3 separate regions of the Homo sapiens genome follow, and all the other regions are linked to region 3. The links come from fine-mapping of genetic effects on gene expression. A gene starts in region 3. Each other region holds a variant in brackets. All regions are shown on one strand. Distances are between the middles of the regions.

Region 1 (8,192 bases), 100 kb before region 3:
CAACTGCTGGAAGATAAAGTCTTAGCAGAAGAGCCTGCCGGTCAGATTGCTGAGGCTGAGTGAAGTACAGTGTCCTTGCCTTTCTGAGATGTGTGCTTCTCCACTTCTCCTTTATAATCAAAGCCGACTGCTGACTACAGAGAAGAGGAGACAGAATTGGTTAGAGTCAGAGCTGACAGGTTTTCCTCTTCCTAACCTCCCCTTACTCCCAGCCAGCCCCAGAGGTAGTTTGTAGGGGCTTCAGGCTGAGTATAGGTGTTTAATGTAGAAACAGGCTGGTATGGACACAGGATACTACAGAGCAATGAACATAGGCCCTGGACACAGACAGTTTTAGGTTCAAACCCTACATCCCCTATTTATAGTTGTTGAAGTTTAAGCACGTTCCTTTATATTACTAAGCCCCAGTCTCTTTCAATATAAAATCAGGAGAGGCATGCCTGCCTTATCTACCTCGACTGTAAAATGAGAGAAATGATCCCTCTTCATCTGGGATGTCATGAGAACTAAATGGGACAAGGTAAAGTGTCTACTTAGTTTCATTCACTAACTTAGCGCTTTTCTTCCTAACGAATCCTCACAAAAGTGAAATGTGATACCTAGAAAAGTGCCTTGTAAAGTATAAAGCACTCTGCTCATGAAGAGACATTACCCTATTCCCAGTTGATAATGCTGTGCCTCTTCTCTTTCATTACTCAATAATGGAAACACAAATATGTGGATTTTGGTGGGATAACTGCAACCAGGAGAGTCTGGATCCTAGCTGGCTCTGGGACTGGATATGTTGCCCAGATACCCAACATTACCGCAGAGTTTTGGAGCTTTGTTCTCCATCTGGCTCAGGAACTATGGGTATCTAAGCAAGTCTGGGTTTTTGCATATTAAGAACTAATTAACATGTATTGTTTCTTGATTTACATGACACACTGACTGGGTGATTCCATTTGTGGCTTGTGAGCAAAAGATGTAAGAATCGGTGATTAAGCAAAGGCAGGCAAGAGTGGTGCCAAGATGGAACAGGGAATTCCATCCTGATTCTAGAACACTGCATGCTCCATATTTCACTATTGCCTTCTACATCTTCCCTTAGCTTTGCAGTATGTTTTAAACTTTCCTGATTTTGTTTTTCATGGTTTTACCCCCCATGATGCAAACAATTAATTTTCTAGAACTTAGCTGCCTTAGCTTCCAATCCTTAGCTTTAAGGATGCATGTCCACCTAATTAACAACTGTTGGTAAAAACAAAGAAAAAATCTCAGCTAACTGTGAAGGAGCTGTCCTCTCTCTGTGTGCAGCTGCAGGGCAGGAGACACCATTCTGCACCATAAAAAATGAGTTCAAAGAATCCGACCTAATAAGGCGTGGAACTAAAAACATCGATGAGTTATCAATCTTACTCTCCTGTCAACGATATGATGCTGTAATCATACGGTACTTTTTTTTCTCTTTAAAACAACATTTTGTTTTGTTTTGTACAAAGGAGTCTTTAAAGATATCTGGACTTCATAGATTGATGCTAAATTCTGTAAATAGTAACCCTAATTAGTTGTTTAACTTGATTATCTGCTGCTATGGCAATAATATTTAAACTGATGAATCTGTTTTCCTAAACGGCATGAGTATTTATAAGGTTTTGATGTTAAGCCAAAAGAAGAGCTTAGATGATTCTCTGTTCTATCTTCATGCATATGAGTATAATAAAAACCAGTGGCTTGAGGAATTATTCATTCAAACACACAGTTTGAGAGTCTTCTCCTATTTGAATCACTGTCTTTCAGCTCAGCATGTGGCTTCCAACATTGGCACCAAGGAACTTGCTGAGGGAGGTATCCCTGTGACGGTGTCAGGTCCTCACAGCATCCACTGTCCTGTCTTTCAACAAAGAAGCATGTGCCTCCATCCAGGGGTGATCGTGGGCAATTTTCACAGGACTGGAGGTGGGTGGTTGGGAGAGAGAGTGGTCACTTACCTTGTCTGCCCTGTCCCTCTCAACTCCGTACTTGCCCCCAAAGCCTTTGGCAGCATCCGTCTGAGAAGAGTGCTTCTCCACCTCGGCAACATACTCATGGCCCACTGCACTCTGAGAAAAATCAAGGATGGAGTGAGTGAAAAGATAAAAATGACCTTAAAAAAATAAATACAGATATGGAGTGGGATGTAGGCATGTAAGAAATTCCATTCTGGGTCAGATCTATAGCCTCTGACAGTGGTGCCAAGGAATACGCGATGGGAGAGCAAGATGACTTTTTCTGGAGACCTGCTCATCCCTGTTCTTCTCTAATACCATTAGGAATCCTTCATTCTGAACACTCCCATAGGATGGGCTGGGAACCAGGGGATAGAGACAAGGTAGACAGAGCAGTGTTTAAACCAGAAACAAAAAGAGCTGAAACAAGAGCATTGTGCAGCAGAACAGAGTGTAGTGTGGGGTAGTGTGGAGGAGAGACCAAGGGGACTGACCGGACGCCATAGCCGGGATGGAATATTTCACTAGGAGAGCCAATGATTTTGTTCTAGATCTTTGCTCCTGTATGGCCATCAAAGTTCAGAAGTGAACTCTGAGCTTTATACACCATGTAATGTAGGACATGTATACAAAAAAAATCACTAAATACACAGTAAATAAAATAATAAAGAGAAGTTGCAACATAGACATAATACATAAACATTTAAATGCAGCAAATAATTTTAAAACATATTTTTTCCTTCTCCACTTGTGCTCCCTGTCTTCTTGGTCTAGGAGTTACAATGTGGTTGGGGCTACAACAGGCCAGCAGTTCTAATATCTTGGTTCTTATTTTCTGCCATGTATATCTTATGTGTTGAGATCAGAAAAATTTGATACAAATAATATGTGGACATTATATTTTAGACCAAATGACTACTGTACTTTTGAATGAGTTTTAACTCATGAACCAATGAATGAGTCAAAAAATATATATTTTGATCTAGAACAAAAGTATCTGGGTGTTTTAGCAAAATTTTTAAATATACTTAAATATTATATACTATATATTTATGAATAAACTATATATTTATAATATAAATATGTTATATCATATAATTATAATATATTAAAATATACATAATATAAATTTATATATTTACATTTACTTATAATTATGTAACATATATTAATAATATATATTTATAAATATATTTATAAATAATTATATAAGTATATAATATATAATGTATTAATATATAATATATTAATTATATACTTGTATTAATATATAATATATTAATTATATACTTATATATAATATATACTTATATATAACAGATACTATATATAAGTATATATATAATATATCTTATAATTAATATATAATAATATAATATTAAATATATTATTTATATTTTTATATATTTTATATATTTATATATATTTTATATATATTTATAAATAAAAATATATAATATATATTATATTTTATGTATTATATTTTATATACTTATATAATATAATATATATTATATATTAATTATAGTATATAATATATTACATTATATTACATATTATTACTATGTAATATATTACTATGTAATATATTACATAGTAATAATATGTAATATAATGTATTAATAATGTAGATTATATATTATATATGATATATAATATATAATATAGATATATTATATATTATATATACTTATATATAGTATCTGTTATATATAAGTATATAAGTATATATTATATATATTAATATATATTTATTACATATATTAATATATATAATATATATTAATATATATACTTATTATATATTATATATTATAAGTATATATTATATTATATATACTTATAATATATATACACTTATATATAATATATAAAATATAATATACATTATATTATATTTATAACATATATAAAATATATAAGTATATATAATAAATATATACTTATATAATTATATACTTACATATAATTGGCTCTTATAGAGCCAATTATTTTATAGCCAATTATTATAGAGCCAATTATTTATTATAGAGTCAATTATATATACTTATATATAGTTGGCTCTTATTATAGAGGTATATAATTATATATAAGTATATAATTATACATATTTACAAAATATATAAGTATATATATCAATTTTTTAATGTATTATTTATTTATTTTATTTATTTTTTTTTTTTTTGAGACAGAGTCTCGCTCTGTCTCCCAGGCTGGAGTGCAGTGGCATGATCTCGGCTCACTGCAAGCTCTGCCTCCCAGGTTCACGCCATTCTCCTGCCTCAGCCTCC[TGA/T]GTAGCTGGGACTACAGGCACCCACCACGACGCACGGCTAATTTTTTGTATTTTTAGTAGAGATGGGGTTTCACCGTGTTAGCCAGGATGGTCTCGATCTCCTAACCTCATGATCCACCCACCTTGGCCTTCCAAAGTGCTGGGATTACAGGCGTGAGCCACCGCACCCGGCTTGTATTTTTTTAAAGCAAATCTTTCCCTTTCAACTTACCTTGTCCATTCGGTCTCTTTCTACTCCAAACCGACCTCCATAGCCATGGGATGCTTTGGGCCCTGACTCCATCTCTTTCTTCCTGAGAACATCATGCTCCTCTGATACTTTGTTCCTCAGCTGGTGGATGCTGGAAGAAACCACATGACCAAGGCTCATCTATCCTAGGGAGATCAAGAAACCCATCTTCCCAGAAAAATGGAAGCCTTGAAGTCTGTCCTGTTTACTTTCAGTAATAACCTGGGCCCCCAAAATATACTAGTGATGGGTCTGGAAGTAAAAGATCAGTCTGGCCTGCATACCATAGCCTGATTTAAACTCTCCATAGGCCAATAATATTTCCTCTAGTCTGTTATTTGCTCACTAAAATAACCTTCTGATCTTTAGTCCCATTTTTCATGTTCTTAAATATTAGAGGACAATGGTACCTATATTCTGATAACTGGAAAGTTATTTTCTTTTCTGAATGGATCTGCTTTCTATCAATTAGAGGATGTGTCTCAAAAAGCAGAAAAATATTCACATACCATTGGACCTACACATTCTAGTTTTAGCAGTCTACACCAGGGAAATGATTTTAAATATGGCAAAGCTTAATGTCCTTAATGTCTAAATGATACTCATTGAAGCATCGTATATAATAGCAATAACTAAGAAACAATCTATATGACCAATGGTTGGATAATAGTTAAATAAATTGAAATACTACCTTTCACTAGTGTACTAGGAAGTCATTAAATATAATGCTTATAAAAACACAGAACTGGGGAAATTTATGTAAACATTAGTGGTATTTTTTATGCTTTTTGGTCATGAATTAAGATCTTCTGCCCCTTCCCCCCAGGCTGATAATACCTGAGAAAACTAAGGACTAATGAAAACTAACTAAGAAAATCCACTCACAGTTATTGCTATAACACTTTAAGCCTCAAATTATCTTGATTTGAAGGGACACCTCTATCCCTAAGAGAAAGTACCACCAAAAAAGGCATTATCTTTCTTACTTCACACCCACTTCCATCTTTACCATGAAGGTGACTGCAACAATTAAGAGGGCAGAAAGCCATCTTGGCCAACCTCTTTGGCTTGAGGATATGAAGTGATAGCTCAGCCCCACGTGACAATCAGATCTGTTATTTGGACACATATAAGGATCCGGGGATTCTTGGAAACATTTGGGCAAGAGAACCCTAAATAAGAAATTTGACTTTCTGCAGCAAGCAATGAGGGTTTAGGGTATTAAGATAGTGATGTTAGATGGTGAGCTGGGACTTTACCAGCGCAGGACAACCAGACACATTGGTTATACGTAGAATGGCTGTCTCACAGCAGAAATTGTCTTCTTTTAAGGAAGAATAGATCCATCTGGTGGCCTTTAGTGGATAATTCTACCAAAGGTCTTTTTAAAAAGCCTTCTCAGCTTTAGCCGCAGTTAATTTTAGAAAGCTGGCTATGAACCAGATGAAATTAAGCCAAGTGCTGGAAGAACCCCCTGTTCCCATGCCTCCTCTAAACTCTCTGGCAGCGTTGAAAGCAGAGATCTTGTGTTGTCAGTTCAACACCAACACTGTGTCATAAGCTACTAGTACCAAGGACATGTAAATGCCTGCCCAATATCTTCCAACTGAAGTATTCAGATGAAAGATCAAGAAAATGGGGCCAAAATTTACTTTCAAATGGAAAAAATCTGCAATTTTTTAATGAATATAATAATTGTTAAATGGGTTATAACTATATTATAGTTAAAACAAGTTTTTAAAAGGGATTAGAAAATGATACTCAGAAATATTCATCTAAAGGATAACAGAAAAACTAGTCAGGGGATCATACCAATGATATAATTTGAATGAAATTGTTGAGGCCCAAAGAAAACAGACTTCTTTAGGTTATAGTGGAAGTCATTCTAAACAGGTCTTTATTATTATTATTATTATTGAGACAGAATCTTGCTCTGTCGCCCAGGCTGGAGTGCAGTGGTATGATCTCAGCTCACTGTAATCTCCGCCTCCCGGGTTCAAGTGATTCTCTTGCCTCAGCCTCCAGAGTAGCTGGGATTACAGGCATGCATGTCATGCCCCGCTAGATTTTGTATTTTTAGTAGAGACAGGGTTTCACCATGTTGGCCAGGCTGGTCTCAAACTCCTGACCTCAAGTGATCCTCTTGCCTTGGCCTCCCAAAGTGCTGGGATTACAGGCGTGAGCCACCACGCCTGGCCTAAACAGGTCTTAATCACATCATTCCTTCATTTTATAACTATTAACTAAACAACTTTTAAGTGTGAGGTACTGTTAGGCTCTGAGGACACAAAAATGTTTTATGTATGGAGATAGAGGACAGCTAGAAGAGATAGAGAGGAAAACAAAAAATTCCAATTCAATATGCTGTGTTGTGCCTAAGAAACTTTTGACATATTAACTCTCAGATATCCAATTTAAGTTTTAAAAGACTTTGTATTGATAAAGCAATGCAGTTTATGTGAACCAAGCAAAATGTAGCACCTCAAAGATGACTCATTCCTCAATCTGTGTTTGTTTTTTATTACAAAACTAAAAGCACAAATGTGAGTGACTCAGAATATAAGGTTTTTATTCACAGATGACCTGATCATGTATGTAGAAAATCCTAAAGAATTCACACAAAAAAAGCTACTAAAGCATTGTGCATTTGGCTAGGTCACAGGATACAAGGTCATTATATCAAAATCAATTGTATTTTTACATACTGGCCATAAACATTTGGAAACTGGAAGTTAAATATAAATACATGAAATAACATGAAACATTTTAGGATAAACTTAACAAAGTATGTGCAAGACCTAAACACTAAAAAATATTTCTGAAAATATTAAAGAAGATCTAAATAAATGGAGAGATATCCCATGTTCATGGATTGGAAAACTCAATATCATTAAGATGTCAGTTCTCCCTAAAATGATCTATAGATTCAATGCAATCCCAATCAAAATCTGAACAGGCATTCTTGTAGGAATTGACTAGTGAATTATAAAATTTATGTGAAAATGTAAAGTCCTGGAATAGTAAAATCTTTTGTTTCTTTTTTTTTTTTTAAGGAGAGCAAAGTTGAGGACTACATAATTTCTTGACTTATAAAGCTACAATAATCAGTGCAGTATGGTATGCTGTCAGGGTAGAAAATAGATCAACAGAACAGAATAGAGTCCAGAAATAGACCCACATGTATGTGGTCAAAGATGCCAGGTAAGTCAATGGGAACAGAATACTCTTTTAATATTGTTGAACAACTAAATAATCACATGGAGAAAAATGAACCTCAATCTTGACCTCACACTGCACAGAAAAGTCTACTTGAAATGGGTCATAGACTTAAATGTAAAAGCTAAAACTGTCAGTCCTTTAGGACAAAACATCAAAGAAAGTCTTCACAACTTTGGGGTAGGTAAATATTTCTTAGACACATAAAGCATTAGCCCCATAAATTTTTTTTCAATAAATTAGACATCATCAGGATTAAGATCTTTTGCTCTTAAAAAGATGCCATTAATAAAATGAAAAAGTGGCCAGGTGTGGTGGCTCACGCCTGTAATCTCAGCACTTTGGGAGGTCAAGGCGGGTGGATCACAAGGTCAGGAGCTCAAGACCAGCCTAGCCACTATGGTGAAACCCCGTCTCTACCAAAAATACAAAAATTAGCTGGGCTTGGTGGTGGGCGCCTGAGTCCCAGCTACTCAGGAGGCTGAAG
Region 2 (8,192 bases), 81 kb before region 3:
TACATACATTTAATCCTCAGGTTCTGAGGTTGGTCTTATTATCTTCAAAGTGCTAAGGCTTACAGAGGTTAAATTACTTGCCCATGGCGGCACAGCCAGTAAGCGGCAGAGCCAGAATTCAATACCCAACTTTGTCTTTCAAGCCTCACGTTCTTTTTTCCACCACACCACACCTGACTTGGAGAAACTCATTACATTTTTTTCTTTTATTAAAGGCTAATAGGCAAAAGCATCCAAAGAAGATTTCTGTGGGGTTTTAAAAATTAAATTGAACTAAAAAAAATTAAATTGAATTGGCAGTCTCCACTGCCTTCTGGCTCAGTTTTTGCTGATTTGCTTATTTAATACTGGAACTTCTCCATTTAATGAAGAAGCTGCCATTACTCACTCAATGGTTATGTCAAACAAACAAAGGAGCTGCATGTAACACAGCACGTTTGATCAAGCATTTGCCTATAGGGATGAACTTTTTCAATAGGGAAGAGAGGATGAAACTCTTGCCTCTACTCTTTGTGTTTTCTCCTTCTGAAAGGATATCTATTAGTTTAATATTCTTGGGCTCTCTGCAGGACACATTCTTTTCCCCGGGAGAGAAGAAACACCTTAATCCAATTTGTGAGTCTAGAAAGAGAACTGAGCATGCACAGCCTAGCTCCTTCTTTCCTGCTTCCCTCCTGAGAGCCAGGCTGACTAAAAAATACACCTTCTGTGTCTATTCCTCCATGTGATAAGCTTTTCAGAAGCAGCTTTGATCTGGAACAGCATGGTCTGTTACTATGGAGGTCAGTCTGTCAATGTAGGCTATGCTGAGGAAGGATGAGAAGTCTGTAGGTATTGATGAGGAAGATGGTACTGGCTGCCTTTAAACTGGAGGGCCACTGAGTTCCACCTGCTCTTTAGAGTACATGTGAGATTCTAACATTACAATGGCAGTACCTGGACTAGGCAGGCAGCCCTTAATTAGCTACCCCAACTTCCATTCTGCATCAGAGCTAAAGAGGGAATTGTGGCTTGAATTAATACGGCTTGCCCACAGGCTCAAGAGTCATCATCCCACACATGCAGTCTCAGTTGGTTTGGGACAGGTTAGTTACACAAGAGGGAGATCAACCTCCCCATTGGCCAGGTTTCACCGGTCTAAACAATTCAATAGCAAGTAGAAGAGAAACAGTCATGAGGGCACAGGCCTGAAAATGCTCGGCAGAGATGGCAAGACACCACACAAGGCATTAAGCAAAGCTGGCCCACCCTCAAAGCTGCATATCAAGGCCTGAATAGGTGATGAAAATTAAGAAGTTGTGAATATGTTGGATTGGAAAGAAAGGTATCTCAAGTAAGACCTGCTCAATGGGGCTGTCACCTCTGCCACATAAACTTTACAAGAAAGCATTAATATCAGAAATGTCATTCTCTGAGGAAAGTGATCATATACATAGGTGGCTTTCTCCCAAAATATAATAAAAGTGCCTGCTTTTAACGATATTTTCCGTGGAAAGGGACTTCCAGCAGCAAAATACTTGTAGCAACTCTCTATCCTCTCATGCATAGTGATTCTTTTGATGAGAATAAGGAACTAGGGATGTGTAGCTCTGCCCTTCCAAATTACACTTGGAGCAAACTGCTCATAGGAAGCACAGTTCACTCTGTTATTCCAATACTCTTGTTTGGCAAGAGCAGGATTTTCTGTGAAGGAGGTCTACCTTGGCCCAACATTGTCTGTGACTGGGAGGGGAAGTTCAGGGTTAGGAAGTGCATTTGCCAACAAATAAAAAGCTACATTCTTTTAACATCATTTATAAAGCAGTCTTTTAATCTCTCAATCTTTTAATCTTTTAAAAAAGATTTCCATGGATTCAGATCTCAGGTAGAAAATGAGGTTGTCACTTATTTGGTCCTCTAGAGAACCCAACACCTACCTCATATAGTTATGGTTAGGGTGAAATAAAATATCTTTCAGTAATGGTAGATATCATTATTATTCTCTAAGAACAACTGTTTTAGAAAACACTGACTCTCTTATACTCCAAAAGTACAGTGTTCTCTTGGGTGACCACAATGTTGGTAAACTCATTGCAGCAACTACCTCAAGATGAGAAAAAGATCTTAAGAAATCCTAAGTCTGGCAGGAAATGTACATGAGTTTGATCAGAAAGGATCGGAAGGGAACAGAGGCTATCTCCTTCAGCCTTTACCGTCTGATCTGCTCCTCGGCCACAGAGAGAGCATTCTCAGCAGCCACTCTTTGGTCTCGTTCTTCTTCCAGCAGCTTCCTTAATTCATTCACTTCCTGTCTGGTGTTGCATAGCTGCTGCTGAGCTTCAGAAAAGCTTTAGGATGAGAGGAAAACAAAAAGCATCATCAGATGCAGAAAACAGTTGCTAATACAAGGGATTCAAAGTCTTCATAAGGTTGTAAAGCAAGAAAATCCATAGAAGCTTGTCTAAACACAATATTTTAAAAGCAAAGCTGTAGAGGGATTAAATGAAGCTGCAGAAAATACCTAAAGAAATTTCAGGAACTGATTATCTTTCATTTTACTATCATAGAGTAGTTGTTAGTGGTGTGTGTGTGTTGGTGTTGCTCTTTTTGTTTTACAAACTTTTCACACACAAATGTTAGTTATTATTGTTACTATTTGATCCTCACATCACTTCTGTGAGGCTAATAAGATAACAAGACATATTAAATCCATATAAAGGACTCCAGTTAAATCTAGATTACTGCCCAATTTCTGGACTCTGGTGTATGCTCCAGGGTTTAGAGAGCCACTCCCCTACCTTTGCTGCGGTTCCCTTAGTTCCTCAGGGTCACTCTTTCTGTGAACTCCATTCTTTTCCTGGGGAGCTCCTGGAGCAACATCTATATTTAGTGGCCCCTGGAAGAAGAATAAGCTTAGTAATTCAGTGATGAAAGCTCTTAAGAAAGTGTATTTGAGCAAAATGAGAGCTCGTTTACAGAGGACTATCCCCGCTTATAATTCTCAAGTCCAAATTTAGAAGTGAGAAGCTTCTGCTCTAGCAGATTACTCACCTACATAAAACTCTTGTCTTGATTAGATTTTTCTCCCAGATTCTCATTCTTGAATTTCTCCTCTTAAAAGTTAAGTCTGGGCCGGGCGCCGTGGCTCAAGCC[T/C]GTAATCCCAGCACTTTGGGAGGCCGAGGTGGGTGGATCACAAGATCAGGAGTTCAAGACCAGCCTGGCCAAGATGGTGAAACCCTGTCTCCACTAAAAATACAAAAAATTAGCCGGGTGTGGTGGCAGGCGCCTGTAATCCCAGCAACTCGGGAGGCTGAGGCAGAGAATTGCTTGAACCCAGGAGGTGGAGGTTGCAGTGAGCCGAGATCGTGCTACTGCATTCCAGCCTGGGCGACAGAGCGAGACTCCGTCTCAAAAAAAAAAAAAAAAAAAAAAAAGTTAAGTCTGCTGTGGATGCTTATGGCTTTTCCAGAAGCCACTTTGATCCTTCCCTTGCTTGTCCAGCCCCTCCCAACCCCCTTTTCCTCCTCCGTATCCTATACGTCTCCATACTAATTCTCAGTCTCCTCCAACTTCAATGCTGTACTCCTCTCCCTGGCTGTCAACAGTGCTGCCTGTTTTGTTCTCAGATCCAAAGTTTCCTACAATTTTCTTATAACTTAAAGCAAAATCAACACTTTCTCTGTTTCAGAGTACCAAATGTCTCAGTCATCACTGTTTCCTACTCATGTTTTGATTTCTCTCCCACCATCTCACTGATCTTTTTTCTTCTAATTGCTTCACTGTAATTTTTCTCAGACCTTATTCCCATCTCAATTAACTCTTTCTTCTCTCCCACTTTCTTCCCTGACCCCTAATTACATTAACTTCTTCCATACTGCTCTGTAGTGCTTCACCACTTGCACTAAATTTCATCACACTTCTCCCAGTCTCTCACCTTCTCTTTACTCACCGCCTGCAGCTCTTGAACCTGCTTCTCCAAGACTGCACAGTGATTTAAAAGGTCACCATAGTGCTGCTGGTTCTCACGAAGACTCTGACTGGTATCGCAGAGCTGAATGGAAAGGGTGTTTTTCTCTTCCAGTAGCTGAGAGAACTGAAACAGAGGCGAGGATAAGCATCATCCTGCAGTACTGTAAGCAGTGCTGAGGTGAAATGTTCTGAGTTTTCAGGATCTAATTTTCCTATGGAAGACCTTTGTTTCAGCAACAGCAACAATAGCACTTTGTGTGCCTTCAAAGTTGGAAAAAGCATAATTTTTTTTTGACCAAGACAGAAAACAATTCTGGAGGAGTAGCAGAAAGGTTTTTTTGTTTTGTTCTGTTTTGTTTTTTTAAATGGTGCCCAGTACATTAACTGAAAAACCATGAAGCAGAAGTCCATAAGCAATCTAATTACATAGGCTATTCTGGGTACATAAGAGGGAGAAGGCAGTACCTCAGGGTCAAAGTTCATGGTACTAACAAATGACTATAATCTCCAGAACTCAATATGGCTGGAGAGAGCTGTCACCCCAAAATCTGTGCAATAATATTCCTAGGCAGATTCCTCAATGCCATAAAGAGTTATAAGTTACTGAGAGAATAGAATAAAAAATTATAATATGTGGTAGAAGGGAGAAACAGAATAAATCCCAACATGTATATGTATATGTCAGAAACTGTTGAGAGCATAGATTCTCCCAGGTAGAAACATTTCAGTCCCTTAAAGCAGGACTCTCCTCTACTGCATGACTAACAGGTCATCGTTCAGTCTTCCCTTGAACATGTTCAGTGTCAGGGCGCCCACTGCCTGACAAAGCAACCCAAACCATTTAAAAAACTGAAAATTCATTTTTATATTGAATGAAAAATTTACCTATTGTAGCTTCTACCCATTGATTTGAATTTGGTACTCTGGAACTATAATTCTCTCACTTGCAGGCTGTCAAGTTTTAAGTTTTAGCTGTGATTAGCCTCCAGGTACATTAATAACCATGGAGATGTCTCTCCAAGTTATCTACTCTAGGACCATGTACATTATATGAGAGGAACCCAGTATACCAGTTGCATGTTCAATTTTTTCTTGATGATTCTTTTTTGTAAGTTTTTGTGAAAAAAAGTTGAAACAAACAATGTTTTAGAGGAGAGACGACAGTTTTCTAGAGACAACTGTGAGGAAGGGCATTTGATGCAAATAGAAAATTAGAACAAGATAATCCATACATACTTGTAAAAGTGCTCTGTTAGCTGAAAATTGCTCTTCAGATGTAGGGTTGTTTTTTGTGTTTGTCATTCTGAAGAGCAATGTTAGCTTACAAAGTACTTTCACCAGTATCATCTTATTTGAGAGAGGTAGAGAAAGGATTTCTGTCCTTGTTTACAAATGGCTAGTAGATGTCAAACCAGGACTCAAGTGTGGTTCTTGATTCCAAGTCTAGAGCTCTATCTACTATCTGATGGTGTCCAGTCTGATAGTCTAGCAAGGAAAGCTAAGAAAATCATAGGGTTTTCTTTTGGGGGGGGGGGTGTGGGAGGAGGTGGGAATAGTTAGGAAAGGATATAAATATTTGGGAAGTGATACTAATTTGAAGACAGTTAACTGGGTACAATGACAACTATTGGATTCTGAGACAGGGCACAACATGTTCTTCCCTTAACCTAAGAGGAAGTTAATTTTCCTGGCCACAATGAACAGTCCAAACCATACCAAAAACAAAAACATAGATCCTTCTAGTTTAGGGGTTGGCAAACTATGATCCAGGGCCTGCTGCCCTTTTATCATAAATAAGGTTTTACTGGAACACAACCAGCCCAATTGATTCTATATTGTCTATGGCTGCGTTTGTGTTACAACTGCAAAGATGAGTAGTTGTTAACAAAGACCATACAGTCAACAAACCTAAAATATTGTCTGAGCCTGAAGGAAAAGTTTGCTGACCTCTCCTCTAGCTTATAAGCTACTATATTTCACTGTATCTATACCTGTAAAAACAAAATAGGAGGGAACAATTTAGACTACATTATGTCACTAATCATCCATCTCATGTTTTTAAGTTTCTAGCACATTCTTACATTACATACTAACATCCAAACAGCTGGTAGAAATGCAGTCATCCCTTGTTATCTATGGGGTATTGGTTTCAGAACCACCCCTGGACCCCCAACTCCCAGTATACCAAAATTCGAGGACGCTCAAATTCCTTATATATAATGGCAGGGTATTTGCATATAACTTATACACAACCTCCCAGATACTTAAAAAATTTTTTAATTCATGTATAATAGATATACATAGTTTCAGGATACATGCTATAATGTAATATATTCATATAATTTGTAAAGATCAAATCAGTGTATCTGGAATATCCATCACCTTAAGTATTTGTCTTTCCTTTACGCTAGAAGCATTTAAATTCTTCTCTTCTAGCTATTTTGAAATATACAATAGATTGTGGTAAACTATAATCACCTATTGATTTACCTAACACTAGGTCTTATTTCTTCTATCAAACCATGTATTTGCACCCATTAATCAACTTCTCTTCATTCCCTCCTCTCCTTTATCCTTCCCAGCCTTTAGTAACTACCAATGCACTCTCTATCTTCATGAGATTCACTTTTTTTTTTTTGCTCCCACACGAGTGAGAATGTGATATTTGTCTTTCTGTTCTTGGCTTATTTCACTTAACATAATGTCCTCCAGTTCCATCTATGTTGCCACAAATGACAGAATTTCATACCTCTAAAAGCTGAATAATATTCCCTTGTGTACATATACCACATTCTTAATCTATTCATCTGTTGACGGGTACTTACATTGATTCTATGTTTTGTTTTTTATGAACAGTGCTCCAATAAACATGGGAGTACAGATGTCTTTTTGATATATTGATTTTCTTTCTTGTAGATACGTGGGTTGCTGGATCATATGGTAGTTCTATTTTTAGCTTTTTGAGATACCTCCATACTGTTCTCCACAGTGGCTGTACTAACTTACATTGCTAACAGTGTATGGGAGTTCCCCCTTTCTCTGCATCCTTGCCAGAATCTGTTACTACCTGTCTTTTTGATAAAAGCTATTTCAGCAAAGGTGAGATGACATCTCACTATAGCTTTGATTTACAATTCTCTGATGTTTAGGGATGCTGAGTATTTTTTTTTATATCTGTTGGCCATTTGTATGTCTTCTTTTGAGAAACGTCTATTCAGATCTTTTGCCCACTTTTAAGTTGAGTTATTTGTTTTCCTGCTATTTAATTGTTTGAGTCCCTTATATATTCTGGTTATTAATCCCTTGTTAGATGGGTAGTTTGCAAATGTTTTCTCTCATTCTGTGGATTGTCTCTTCACTCTGTTGATTGCTTCCTTTGCTGAACAGAAGCCTTTTACTTGCTGTAATCCCATTTGTCTATTTTTGCCTTGGTTGCCTGTACTCTTCAGGACTTACACAAAAAAAGCCTTGGCTAGATCCATGTCCTGAAGCATTTCCACAAGTTTTGCTCTAGTAGTTTCATAGTTTCAGATCTTAGAATTAAGTCTTTAATCCATTTTGATTTGATTTTTGTATGATGAGAGATAGGAGTCTAGTTTTATTTTTCTGCATATAGATATCCAGTTTTCCCAGCACCATTTATTAGAGAGATTGTCCTTTCTCCATCATATGTTCTTGGTGCCTTTGTCAAAGACAAGTTGCCCCTAAATGCCTGGCTTTATACCTGGGTTTCTAATTGTTTCATTGGTGGTCTGTGTGTCTGTTTTTATGCCAGTATCATGCTCATTAAACAGGTAGTGTGATGCTTCCAGCTTTGTTTTGTGTGTTTTTTTGTTTTTTGGTTTTTTTTTTTTTTGAGACGGAGTCTCGCTCTGTCACCCAGGCTGGAGTGCAGTGGCGCGATCTCGGCTCACTGTAACTTCCACCTCCCGGGTTCAAGCAATTCTCTGCCTCAGTCTCCCAAGTAGCTGGGATTACAGGCCCCCGCCATCACGCCCAGCTAATTTTTGTATTTTTAGTAGAGACGGGGTTTCACCATGTTGGCCAGGATGGTCTCGAACTCCTGACCTCAGGTGATCCACTCATCTTGGCTTCCCAAAGTGCTGGGATTACAGGCATAAGCCACCACACTCGACCCAGTTTTCCTCTTTTTAATCAAGATTGCTTTGGCTAGTTAGGAGTTTTTGTGGTTACATACATATTAAATTTTTTTTCCCATTTTTGTGAAGAATGTCATTGGTATT
Region 3 (8,192 bases):
TCTCCAAGTCTTCACTGTTATCAATGATTATTCTTATAACAACCACCTGGTGTTCAGCATTATGCTAGGAACTATAAAAATATAAAAAGAATTATAAAGCATGTCCCTAGCCACCGAAAACAGAACAATATGCACAGGAAAATAAGCAAAATAACTGAAGACAGTGAGTGCATGCCTGTGTATATATGCATATATGCCATCTACTTTGGAATTTAAATCACATTTTCCCACAGAAACACAGAGAAGGTGGTTAGGTTTCAGTTGAGGTGACTCCTCAAACTTATTTCATGCTTATTTAGTTAAGCCTCAGTAGCTGTCCTTAATTCCTTAAATCTCAAAGTGATTTTCAACCAAGTTGAGGGGCTAATGGGTAGTGCTGTATAGCTGGAAATAACACATTCGATATTATGACATAATTTTACAATTAGAAAATGAACAACTATTTTTCATGATGCAGAAGCCACTATTTTAATTAAATGAATTTGTAAGTGGTAGCTATAACATACATACACAGCGTGACCTGCCAAACACTGCTCCAATATCTTTACACATAACTTACTTTTCGTTATTTAACTCACTTTATTTATTTATTTATTTATTTATTTATTTAATGTTATTTATTTTGAGACGGAGTTTCACTATTGTCGCCCAGGATGGAGTGCAGTGGCGCGATCTCACTACAATCTCTGCCTCCTGGGTTCAAGCGATTCTCCTGCCTGAGCCTCCCCAGTAGCTGGGATTACTGGTACCCGCTGCCACGACTGGCTAATTTTTGGTATTTTTAGTAGAGACAGGGGTTTCACCATGTTGGCCAGGCTGGTCTCAAACTCCTGACTCCAAGTGATCCACTCGCCTTGGCCTCCCAAAGTGCTGGGATTACAGGCATGAGCCACTGCGCCCGGCCTAACTCACTTTATTCTTAAAACAACCGCAAGAGGGAGTACCGTCAATATTCCCAGTTTTAAGGTGAGTAAACTAAGGCAGAGGGATGTTAAGTAATTTCCCCAGTCACATAGTTCGACAAAGCTTCTTGGTGGGTGAAGATACACAGAAAATATTTTATTTTCTGAATAATCTCATTATCCAATATTCTTTACTCGGGTTGAAAACAGAATGAAGGGATAAAGGCACTATGTTAATAGTTAGGTAAGTACTTTTTTTTAAAGCAGTAAGTAAACTAAAATGATTCATATTAGTATGGCCCCAAATAATTCCATATTGTTTATACCACAGACAGGTTCACACAAGGGCCCTAAGATATATATACATGGATGTTATATATATATATATATATATATATATATATATATATATATATGGATGTTACATAACAAAACATGTTATGTATGGATGTTACATAACAAAACAAAAATCCATGTGTGTATATATATATGTATATATGTATATATGTATATATATGTGTATATATGTATATATGTATATATGTGTATATACGTATATATGTATATATATGTGTATATACGTATATATACGTATATGTCTATATACGTATATATATACATATATACGTATATATATGTATATATATACATATATACACATGGATGTTATATAACAAAACACTACAGCAGTGTTTTGATGGCTAATGACTGAAAATCTAAATGTCCATCAATGGGGACAGGCTAAATACTATTTTTATATTTTTACAAAGGACTGCTGTGTAGCCATGGAAAGGATGAGGTAGTTTTATACCCATGGATATTGAAAGTGCCTAATATACAGTACTAAATGGCAAAAGCATGTGTATTAGGATTCCACTTGTGGGAAAGACAGAAGGGGGTATATATTATCATGTGCTTTATTATGATCAGAAAGTTTCTTAAATATAACCAAGAAATTATTTACAGTGCTTACTTCTGGGAAGTGGGGAATGGAGATGGGTAGATCAGTAGATAGAAAAGAAAAAGACTTTTTTTACATTGTATCCTTCTGTATTAAATTTCCTTTTATCAAAAGCATATAGCTGATTTTAAAATAGCTTAATTAAAAATACAGCAATATAGAGCTTAGTCTCCTTTTACATAATGGTTTCTAACCACAGACTGGTATGTAATGATCAGTGGTATTCCTAATAGTAATTAACCTAGAGAAATTAATGAATGATTTATTTTATAAACAAGGATAAAGTCAACATCCCTTTAATTAATCCATTAATCAAAGGGAGAAAAAGAAAGGGGGCCTATAAAACTCAAGCAGAAGGTTGAAAAAAATCTTCTAAAGATCATGTTTAAGAAAGGCTGCATCCCAGAGTCTGGATGCCAGAAATGCCAACGACCTTCTTGAAAAACAAGGAAGTATCTTTACGTGATTGTCAAATTGGGTTGGGAGGTCCCAAGGTGTGGACAAGGCTTTTTAAAAACTTCATTCTTTTACGTTTATACTTTTGCATATTTCATATTATACACAACATATTTACAGTGGTAGTCATACACTATAAATAATTAAACACACAACATTTGGGGAGATGCATGCTCAAAAATGTTTTACTGATAGGGAGTGCAATTAAAAGGTTTGGAAGCTGCTGAGGTAGTAAAAAATATTGATGCAGTGAAAAGAAAAACATTAAATGGTCATTCTGTGGTCAAGGGATGAGAAGTAAAAGCTATGAAGCAGTTAATGTACAATGCCTGCAACTTTTGAGTACTCTTCAACTTTTTCCTGCATCTATTCCAAAACCAAATCCTGCCATTTTTCCAATAGGATATTTCCTGAGTTTGCCCCTTCATAACCATTCTGACCATCTAAATCTTATCAATTCACGCTTTTGGAAAGGCCTCTGGCCCTTATGTAAAGAGCCCTCCACTTGCTTGCATCTTGCACAGAACTGTAAAAAGGTCCTTTAAATGCTCAGACAGCTTCCAACTATCTCCAAAAGTGAAAGTACTTACCCATGATTGTAAATATCCCTGTCCCACTCTCAAACTGTCCGCTCCCCATAGACCAACTGGAGCTCTTTAAATAAGTCAGACAAATATATTCCTCATTCCTCAAAGGACTCACCCTCCCTTTCACATTCCGGTTGTGCAGATTAAACATACTCCACACCATCAAACCAAGTTATTTTTCCTCGAGAACTCTCTTAGAGGTTCCTTTTTCTCTAACAGCCTGCCCACCTCTGATTCCTGGGATTTTCGTGTTGACGGGATCGTTGGGATCTTTCCTCTCTTCTCATCTTTCCAGTAACCCATTAGCATTAGCAGGATTATTGGACAGGCCTCCGTTTGCATTAATATCTCCAATGATTCTGTGATCTCCGCCCTAAAGACCTTTGATTTCTTTTGGTCGCGCCTCCCCTTCGGGACACCAAGTTTGTTTAGGGCCTGAGCACAGGGGCCCAGCAGGTTCTTTCCGACGTCAGCGGCTGCGTACGGAGGCCGACTTAGGCAGGCCGCTCCAGGAACAAGGCCGTGCGGACAGGACTGACCTAGGCGCTTTTCCCCGTCGCTCCCAGAGGAGAAACGTACCGGGGAGGGGACAGACCGTGAGCAAGTGGTCCAAGTCTGCGCAGGGTGACCCCGAAGGCCCACCGGAGAGGCCGAGGCTTGTGGGCTACTAGAACTAGGCCTGGTAGGTGAAGGAGGCGGGTGAAGGGCCGGATCCAGGACTGAATCCGGGAGAGGCGGGGCGAGGAGGGGACTCCGGTGTAGCTGCTTGGGCAGCTCCCGCGGCCCCTCTGGCGGGGGTGACCGTTATTGGACTCGCAGAGGGAAGAGTTGGGTAGCGTCCCCTACTCACCTAGAAGCGCTGCCGCCTGAGGCTCCAGCTGCCCCCCTCCCAATTCAAGCCACGTCAGCTCGGGAAGCCCGTACGCGACACCTTCCACCGCCGCGCCCCGCCAGGGACTCAGCCACTAGCAGTTGGGACGGAAGATGGGATTAAGACACCGACCAATCAGGACTATCGGCAGGACGTTACCAGGGAGACCAGGCACACCTTGTTTGTTACCAACCTATCAACAATGACGGAAACCAATCAACGACAGAAGATGCTCCGCTTCCTCAAAGAAACAGCCAATGGACCCTAAAGAGTGAATGAGGGGAGTGATTAGACGCGAGTAGGTGCCCCGGAACAAGATCTGGGGAGGGACAGGAAGTGTCGAGTGGGCGGGCGTTCTGGGAAAGGTCAGATGTTCTCAGTGTGAAGTGGTTATGCTGGCTTCCTCCAATTCCTCCTCTTCGTCGGTTGTGACTGACCGAGACAGCGGCTTGGGCTTCGGCAGAGACTTGAGACTGCGGGCACCCGCTGCCATTAGGATTGTTGAATGAGCTGTGAGAAGGGAGTGGGGGATATGGGACTCTTAGATTGAAAAAATACTGGAGCCTCTTAGTTGTTCGTCTAGTTTCACCTTTTGATTTTGTTGATGAAAAATAATTAACCACAGAAGTAACTTGCCCAAAGTCAAACAGCGACTTAGTGATGGAACTCGGACTAGAACCCGGTGTCAGTATGAAAGAGGATCAGCAATGTCTGTAAGGACATGATTGTGAGAGAGAGAGTAGTGAATACTAGGAAGGTGCCTCTTACAAAGTGGAGCCTAAGCCAGGACCTAAGCAAAGATTGAGAGTTGAGGGCTCAGGCTCTGCAATGAGTGTCAGTGAGGAGCTCCAGCAAAAGACTGAAATCACTCATGCTTTCCTTAAACCCCTAAGGAAAGGGAAGGAAAGTAGCCAGTTTCCAATGAGCTGTCATTTCAGGCACTCTCTTGGCAATAAGAGTAATGTTAGTTTGAATTTATTGAATCTTGCTGTGCACTCAGCTGGCCCATTGTATGTATACTCATCTTAATGATTACATAACTTCACAATTCAAACATCAGCTAAGTAAGGCCTTTCCTGGCTGCCCATCTTACGGAACTGGAGGTCATTATTCTAAGTGAAATAAGTCTGGCACAGAAAGACAAATATCCCATGGTCTCACTCATGTGGGAGCTTAAAAAGTTGATCTCATGGAGTAGAGATAAGTACCAGAGGCTGGGAAGGTGGAGTTGGGGGAGGGAGGGAAGAGATTGGTTAATGGGTACAAACGTAGATAGAAGGAATAAGTTCAAGTGTTTGATAGCACAGTAGGGTGACTATAGTTAACAATATGTTATATATTTCAAAATAACTAGGAGATTAGAAATGTTCCAAACACAAAAATGATAAATGTTTGAGGTGATAGATATCCTAAACACCCTGATTTGATCATTACACATTGTATGCATATATCAAACTACCACACCCCATAAATATGTACAAATATGTATCAATACAAACATAAATAAAATTGCAATTTCCTGCATGCACTATATACTTCTTCTTTGCTTCTTTTTCCCCTAAGCATTTTGCCATCTAAAGTACTATATATTTCATTTATCTGGTATCTCTCTTCTCATTAGATTATAAGCTCCAGGAAGGTAGTAATTTTGATCTCAGCTTTATCTCCAGGTCCCAGAAAAGTATAGAGGAGGGCACTCAATATCTGTTAAATTAATAAAGTATATATGATTATCCTTATCTTAAATGTGAGACAATAAGACTTCAGAAGGTTAAATAATTTGCACAAGGTCACATGGTGAGGGGCAGAGACAGAATTTGAATGCTGCAGTACTTAATGAATACATCATATTCTTATATCCCTGATTGTATCCACCCAGCAAAGTCCTAAACCTGCATCAGTCCAACCATTGGTCTCTACTTCTACCTTTGGGGAGCAAAATGCTGCAGGAGACATCAGGACAATGTCATCAGTGACATCAATGTCCTGACCACTGCACATTCAGTTTCCAGCTGAACTCCATCTTCAGCACACTCCCAAATCCTTCTTGTCTTCAGCTTCCTCTCCTATTTGCCACAATTATTCAAACCTTTAACATCCTCTTTAAGTCCCAACCCCGTGTCTACACTTCACACTCCTAGCAGATGAACTTGCTTCTATCTTAGAGAAAATAGAAGCCATCACTGAGAGTCCTATTGTACTCCCTTACACAAAATTTACCTTTCTACATACTTATTTCCACATTCGACCTTAGAATTTACCTTTCAGTTTTAACAGAATGAAAGTTTCTTATGGGAGACGAGATTAGAATTTTTTCTGTCTAGTAGGTCTTCTTATAGCTCTACCTTCTATTATTGGGTGAGCACAGTATGGTGAGAATTATAGTGAACACTAGGGGTGTGAAGGAAGAAAATGAGGTGGAGAAGTTAAAGAGCAAAACATATTATTTCTAAGTTCACTGAAGGACTGGAAATAATTTAGAATGCAACTTAATGGAAGCAATTTAGGCTCTGAGAGGGTGATCAAGATAATAAAAGATAATTAGGGGTTGCCCCAGCAAAAAAGAGGGTACAGAATAGTGGAGGTAGATGGAGCAGCATGTGCATGGACCATTTGGGCAATTTGACATAAGTGATATGACTGAATGGTTAGGCAAAGAGTAGGTCATAAAATTGTGCCATTTTATGCTAAGGGGTTTGGATATGACTCTAAGCTCCAGAGCAGTTAGAGACTGCAGAAATCACAGAAGTGTGGAGTCATTCAGGTGTCCCTTAGAGAGTGATCATTTCCCTAATTGAAAGTACAGGGAGGAAAAGTTGAAAGACAAGAAATGTCACATTCTCTGTGATTTACTGTTGCCCAATTCCCTCTCCCCTTTTTCAGTTCTTTCCTCATCATCATCTTACCTTCCTCTATACCAAATGCAAACTTATTCCAAAACTTTCATGCAGCCTTATTTATTAATGTATCTTCCATACCTAACGTATCTTCAGCATAGTATATACTCAATAAATATTTGTTAAATAAAATATCCAACATAGAATTCTATATGAATAAATCTTAAAATCTTGGAGAAATAAGAAATTGTCTTGAAAAATATAACTTTGAGACATATCAATTATATGCAAAAATATACAATCACATGATCACATCAACCAATGAAGAAAAATATTTTCACAAGAAGAGGGAAGGTGGGGAAAGAAGAAGAGGGATGGTGGGGAAAGAGGAAGGGAGATGAGGGGGGAAAAAGAAGAAGGAAGGAGAGGAAAGAAAGGGGAAAGGAAGACGGAAGGTGGGGAAAGAAAAAGAGGGATGGTGGGGAAAGGGGAAAGAAGAGGGATGGTAGGGAAAGGGGAAAGAAGAAGAGGGATGGCAGGGGAAGAAGAAGAGGGAAGGTGGGGGAAGAAGAGAGGGAAGGTGGGGATAGGGAAAAGAAGCTGAGGAAAGAAGGTGGGGAAAGAAGAAGAGGGAAGGTGGGGGAAGAAGAAAAATCAACACCCATTCATGATTAAAAAAAAAAACTCAGAAAACTAGGAATCGAAGGATATTTACTCAACTTGATAGAAAAATATTGCAGATTCTTAATGGTGAGAAACTGGATGCTTTCCCTCTAAGATCAGGAACAAGGTAAGGATGTCCCCTGTCACTACTCCTAGGTGACATTATACTAAACCTCCTGCCTAATGTAAGACAATAAAGGGAAATAAAAGATATTCATACTAGCAAGTAATAAATAAAACTGTCTTTGTAGATGGCATGATTTTTTATGTAAAAAATATCTAAGAATAAACAAAAACCTCCTGGAATTAATAAGCAATTTTAACGAGGCTACAGGGTAAAAGGTCAATTGCTTTCCTCAGCAAAGAACAATTGGAATTTGAAATTAAAAACACAATACCATTTACATTAGCCTCAAAAAAAAAAGACGAAATAAATACTTAGGCATAAATCTAACAAAATATGTACAGGCTCTATGTGAAGGAAACTAGCAAACCTCTGATTAAAAAAATTAAAATCTAAATAAATTGAGAAATATTCCATATTCCCAGAAAGCATCAGTATTGTTACGATGTCAATTCTTCCCAACTTTATCTGTAGATTCAATAAGATCTCAATCAAAATCTTAGCACATTATTTTGTGGATATCAACAAATTAATTCTGAATTTTATATGAAAAAGTAAAAGACCCAGAATAATCCACAGACTATTCAAGAAGAACAAAGTTGGAGGACTGACGTTACCCAACTTCAAGACTTACTACACAGCTACAGTAAACAAGACAGCATGGTATTGGCTAAAGAATAGACAAATAGACCAATGGAACAGAATGGACAGCCCCAAAATAGATCCACATAAATGTAGACAACTGATCTTTGAGAATGGAGCAAAGGCAATTCAATGGAGAAAAGAGTCTT

Which allele goes with the higher level. Positions count from the first base shown, and alleles are read on the strand shown. Sizes are in standard deviations (SD) of each study's normalised expression. Not every link is listed here.
For the expression in rectum of the gene that starts at base 3,866 in region 3, allele TGA in region 1 goes with a higher level than allele T (large effect, 1.1 SD a copy in CEDAR).

The links. PIP is the estimated chance that this variant, and not a neighbour inherited with it, causes the effect.
Region 1: its variant is the best candidate, but not a certain one, in a credible set for the expression of GOLGB1 in rectum (CEDAR, PIP 0.73).
Region 2: its variant is the best candidate, but not a certain one, in a credible set for the expression of GOLGB1 in whole blood (INTERVAL, PIP 0.56).

The regions. Positions count from the first base shown.
Region 1 is chr3:121,642,848-121,651,039 of GRCh38, forward strand. It overlaps HCLS1 (hematopoietic cell-specific Lyn substrate 1), which reads right to left. Exons shown (of 14, transcript NM_005335.6): 4 at 4,472-4,601; 5 at 1,971-2,081; 6 at 80-134. Among named protein-coding and RNA genes, the nearest start is that of HCLS1, 14 kb to the right of the region's middle. The variant TGA/T (reference allele first, on the strand shown) is at 4,259.
Region 2 is chr3:121,665,284-121,673,475 of GRCh38, forward strand. It overlaps GOLGB1 (golgin B1), which reads right to left. Exons shown (of 22, transcript NM_001366282.2): 18 at 3,929-4,072; 19 at 2,778-2,875; 20 at 2,193-2,327. Among named protein-coding and RNA genes, the nearest start is that of HCLS1, 8.5 kb to the left of the region's middle. The variant T/C (reference allele first, on the strand shown) is at 3,133.
Region 3 is chr3:121,745,876-121,754,067 of GRCh38, forward strand. GOLGB1 (golgin B1) reads right to left here and starts at 3,866. Exons shown (of 22, transcript NM_001366282.2): 1 at 3,757-3,866. RefSeq lists enhancers at 3,524-3,573, 3,594-3,833.